2 separate regions of the Homo sapiens genome follow, and region 1 is linked to region 2. Evidence: fine-mapped expression QTL. Tissue or cell type: whole blood. Region 2 holds a variant in brackets; the other region holds the start of a gene. All regions are shown on one strand. Distances are from middle to middle. Region 1 holds the start of FOCAD (focadhesin). Region 2 overlaps MLLT3 (MLLT3 super elongation complex subunit).

Region 1 (2,979 bases), 77 kb before region 2:
TCTACGCAGGAATTGGATGTGAATCAAAATTGTAAACATGCACTTGCTTGGTAGTCAAAAAGTGAATGTGGACAGATACAATGTTCGTTGACACAGTAAAACATAATCATAAAATGCATCCTGTGTTTTTAAAATAGTTACTTCCTGTTAACACAGTTCAGGAAACATGCCATCTACCCTCCTCTCCTGGAAAATCTCAAAATTATACTAATCCCATTCCTCTTCTTACAGATAGGCCACTGAAACCTGGAGTCATTACTGATACAGTTATCAGGATTACACCCTCAGAGCCACGATGGTTTCAGGGATACTAGAACCTGAAAATAACAAAAAAAAAAAAAATTTCCAACTCAAATCTAGACAATAAAACTAACATATAAACTGGAATAAAACGCAGGAAATGCCGATTTTAATACCTGGTATGAGGCTGACCATTAAGGCATCCATCAAAAAAGTTTGGAATGTATGAATGAATGACTGCATGAAATTGGCAGGATTTCATTCATTTCAAAAGCTCCAAATTCAGGAACCACACTGAGATATCAGGACGCCACAGCTGAAACTAAAACTCATGAAGGGTAAATGCAACATAACTGCACGTCTCCACGCGTTAGCTGCTGCGAAAATTTCAAAACATACATCTAACATACTCTTTCTTCAAGTAATTGCCGCAAGTGCGGACGGAGCCAGAGAACTAGGAGACTGAAAACAGGCCCTGCTCACCCATAAGCCTTTGCATTATAAGTGGACATGATCTGAGTGAGTCACCGGGAATGAGAAGGAGACAGTCACCCCAGGCCAGGCAGGACGCGGCCAGAATCTCCTGCTCTGCCCCCAACTAGGGAACCGGTCGAAGGAGAGTGGGACGACTGCAACCTGCTGCAGCTAAGTATGCAAGGATCGCGCCGACCGGCTTCCGAGTCGAGATCCCACTAAGTCCCACCGCAGTCACCACAGCCAGCCCTGCCCAGGTATCTCGGAGCTCCGTAACCTCAGAAGGCCTAGTCCTCCAGAAGCTGAGAGCCCCAGCAGGACCGGACGAGGGCAAAAAGCCCCCTCCCGGCTGCCCCTCGCCGCGACGCGGCCCTGCCGCCACATGCTCCACTGCCCCGTCTCCCAGCTCAGCCCCAGCCCCGCAGGGCCTCAGCCGCCCTCCATGCAAGCCGACCGGGCCGCAGGCGGCGCGACCCGGCGGCTCCCGAGCAGGGGTGCAGCGGTGGCAGCCCGCCGCCCCGCACGGCTTACCTCCCTTCTGCCACAAGCTCAGCCCAGCGCCGGCTGCCTGACGTGGCCCGCCCCGCCGCCTCGAACGCCCGGGGGCGGGGACTGCAGGAGAGAGCCAATGGGCTGCATATCGCGAGGCCCTGTTCCGCCTCCTCCGGCTGGGGCCCGCCCTCCCCGGCTCGCGCGCACGCGCGTCTAAGGCCCGGGCCGCGCACTGCGGTTGAAAGGCGGCGTGGGCGGCGGACCCGCGCTCTGCAGCCGAGCTGGTGCGGGGAGGGCTGCGCGCGGGGGCTGGCTGTGGAGCAGCACCGCAGTGAGGAGTTAGCCCAAGGAAAATCAGATTAAAGGAAACTGCCTAGAGATGCCACTGCAGCGTGCCCGGGTAGTCCTGTTGGCAGCCTGCCCCTATGCAGCTTTTGGCAATACAGAACAGCTTCTTGGTATTTGGAGATTTTGTTTCTCGGGGGAAATAAATAATACTGATAACATTAAGGATTCAGAAAATTTAAAGCAGACAGCCGACTTGCCGCGAAGACGCTTCGTTCTTCGCCTAATAGCTACTTGGTGTCTTTACTTCATTTGGCCAACACATAACACTGCAGCTCTCCACGCCACTGTGGTATATCCACTTGTTAGATAGTCCTGAGGTAGTTCTAGCCCAAGTGTTTCTGCTGATCTAATCTGGGGGGAATTGGCGCGAGTAATTATTCTGTTACGATTTTGCGCAATACTTACTGAATGATAAACATGTATTTTCTCGTGGGGCGGGGCAGGGGCTCCCACGTGAGAAGGCTGTAACAGACAGACAGCAGCCACGATGAAACACGCTGAAAAGAGCCAGCAGAAAAAAACGAGGAGAGACTGGTATGACGGAGTGGAATTCCGGTTGTGGATGACAGAATGGAAATTTTACGCAAGATGAAAGAGTTAAGACAAATTACTCTAAAAATATCTGACTTAGTTGTTTCTAAACCCTGGGGCACCCTTAGGAAAAAATAAAAATAAAAAAACAAGTGCCTGGGCCTCATCACTTGGTTGAAAAAGGTCTGCTGCCAGATCTTGACATTGATATTTTTCTAAGTTTCCAAAGTCATTTTAATGTGTAGACAAGAAGTTCTGTTTCTCATTTGTAGGAAGAATTTGGTTCCCCATCACCTCAGAAAAGTAATTATGTATCACAGACCGTTAACAGTTTTCCCAATAACCAACTATGCATTCACCCTCTAAGAATTTATCTAAATTAATCTTGGGGCCAGGTGGGGGGGCTCACACCTGTAATCCCAGCACTTTGGGAGGCCGAGGAGGGCGGAGTTCAAGACCAGCCTAGGCAACGTGGTGAAACCCCATCTCTACTAAAAAAAACATACAAAAATTAGCCCGGCGTGGGGTTGCGCGCCTGCAGTCACGGCTACTCTACTCAGGAGGCTGAGGCAGGAGAATCGCTTGAACCCGGGAGGCGGAGGTTGCAGTGAGCCGAGGTGGCGCCACTGCACTCCAGCCTCTGATGGAGTGAGACTGTCACAATCAATCATTCAATCAATCAATATTGAACCTACTTAAAGTTATTCAACCTCTGTTATCCTTTGCTTCAAAGGAGTTTTATAAGGCTTATAATTCCCTTTTTATGGACTTTGATGATACTCTCTTTCAGTCTTCCAAATGCACCAGTATTTCTTTTAGGACTATTTTAATATTTTTTCTTCTATTCCTATATTTCTTGAGGCTCATTAGTCAAAATTATAATTAAACACATAA
Region 2 (2,500 bases):
CCTTAAGCATAACTAAAAATGATTTCCGCAAAATGAGGAGGTTAATTTTAGTTGTCTCAAGGGTCTCTCTGCAATCTAAAATTTATCTAATTAAGTCCATGATTTTATAGTCCGTGAGAAAACACATTTGCATTTTGACATTAAACTTTAAAAGTGTACTGTGCACTAATGCATAGCAAAGCTATATGTCAAATAAAAATAAGGGCATTTTCCCTTTAGTAGTAGATGATTTTACAAAATCCATAAAATACAAATAGATTAACTCTACCTTAGAATGTTTGTGAAATATAAACAATGATGTTTATGATCTGGGTATTTCTTATTAGCTGCTTGAATAAAATTGCAACTTCAAATTCTATTTGCCAGCATTTGGAATAAGATTATATTCCATGAACTTAATTTAGTTCTGCTGACAAATTTCTGCTTAACTATGTCTATTCCTTTTGAGAGAATTCTAAATGTGATTGATAATGGCCTGGAATCCCTTCTTCAGGATTAAGGTGTATACAAGAATGAGGAAAATATACTCTTTGGCACAATGAGTACAGATGGCAATGTTTATTTGCTGCTTTTATTAGTAAGTTAATTTATATAGATGTCTTAACTGCAAAAATAAAATAATAGTTTTAAAATTAAGTAATTGTTTTAAAACTTGTTATAACCAAATACCCCAGACACCAAGTTGAAGAGTGGAGAGTTTGAGCAATATGAAGACCTGGTTTGAGTATTGCAAAGAGATTCCAAATTGGCACCAAATTAAATAAAAATACTCATAAAATTTTGTTATAGGACAGACAAAACTATGGTAGATGACGATAGTGTACAAATGGCCCTTATTTGGAGCATATGGAGTGGGAGCATATTTTGCAGTGAAAGAGGAACCAGAGGACAAGGTGTTCTCTACTTGTAGACTTGTAAAGACCTCTGAGTTTTCTTTATGTTATTGTAGAAAGACATTATTTTTGCTTTGGTGTGCTTAAAACTAAAGGGCAAATGATCCAAAAGAATAATCTTGAAATTCAATAGCAAGAGAACTACTTGACATTGTGGGCTGGAGGCCAGCAAACGTGGGGCTTTCATTGAATGCGTGGGAAATGGGGCAGGCCTGGAATTTAAAGAGACAGGGTGCAGTACCCTAGAAAAGAAAAGCCCTCCTGTATGATTTGCTTACTTGGAGAAAAAAAATAGACTTAAAGTTTTCTCTAAAGGATCTTTATTGGATCAACTGTTTAAGGCATTGAAAGACACTGAGTGAATTTTTCCTAACTCCACCTCCCACACTCCCTAGCCATCTTCTCTTGTCTGAAATTGGTGCAGAGTAAAATTGTTTATAACAGAGCACAAGCAGCTTTTCAAATAAAAGTACTTTGTAGCCTGTTCAAATGGAGTATAATGTAATTCTCTCTGAAATTGAGCACTTATTACTTTGTTTATGTAGCTGTTTTAAAAGTACGGGTGGGTGAAGGG[G/A]GTACGGCAGGAACCTCTGCTTTAGAAATTACTGTTTTTTTCTGAGTTTTCCTCCCCCATCCACTCATGAATCCGCCTTCACCCCTCCCCCACCTCCTGCAATCCCTCAATAAAATAGTATTTAAAAGACTTGAATAACCAGTCCTATGTACCAGCTTCTTGCTGGAGGCAATAATGTTCTATTTTCAATGGGTGGTCTTGAATCTCCATGGGAGATTTTACAGGCAGTGGGCTCCAAGACCCACTAAGTGTATTATATGAACATAACCAGCTAAATTTCCCAGCCATAGAGAATACGCAGGGATAGTTTTACGTTATTGAATTCTCGTCATTAATTACTTGCAAACTAATTTATTTAATTTTATTTGAAGAAGTATGGTTTAAGTCCCTAAAGTGAAACATATTAACCCAGCATTTGGGAGTTACTTTTTAAAACCAGTAAGCCATTCATAAGTGTGTCAGTTTAGGAATATCCATTCGTGCACATACTTTAATTATTAAATGTTAAGTAATTTGTACTCCTTTACAAAACCAACACTTAGTAATTGTCTTCAAATGCTTAATAGTTGAAGTGAGATTTCTTCTACTTAAGATGGTATAAAATGATGATATAGGACTCATAATCAGAAAGTATGTTTGATATATTTATAATCAATTAGTATCTCTTACCTATGGCATATAGTATAAATGTTATACTAGCTTAAAATCTGACTAAAATTGTTCTGGCCCAAACCTTTGTGGAAGTAAACATGATTGGAATTATGTTAAATACTGGATTAAAATTGTTCTTTAGGCGAATTACTTGAGTAAGACAATATAGTTACATATGCATCATAAATATTGAAATGGGGAATGTTGTGTCATATCTATTCCCACATAACTTAGTTTGAAATTATTTTGGAGCTTCTTTCTAGTATGAACCCGTGGTTATTAACTAGACTAATAAGCATAACTTTGTTGGGTCACTTATTTAAATTACTTTGTTTCCGTTATTCACATTCTTCAGACACTTGATTTATAAATAAATAAATAT

What was found.
Region 1: FOCAD starts here. The variant in region 2 is fine-mapped to the expression of FOCAD in whole blood (TOPMed, PIP above 0.99).

The regions. Positions count from the first base shown.
Region 1 is chr9:20,682,560-20,685,538 of GRCh38, reverse strand. FOCAD (focadhesin) reads right to left here and starts at 1,280. Exons shown (of 44, transcript NM_001375567.1): 1 at 1,246-1,280. It overlaps FOCAD-AS1 (FOCAD antisense RNA 1), which reads left to right and starts at 789. Exons shown (of 2, transcript NR_121601.1): 1 at 789-971; 2 at 1,998-2,237. RefSeq lists an enhancer at 838-1,578 and a silencer at 978-1,677.
Region 2 is chr9:20,605,382-20,607,881 of GRCh38, reverse strand. The region is part of intron 2 of MLLT3 (MLLT3 super elongation complex subunit); the gene reads left to right. Among named protein-coding and RNA genes, the nearest start is that of MLLT3, 16 kb to the left of the region's middle. The variant G/A (reference allele first, on the strand shown) is at 1,468.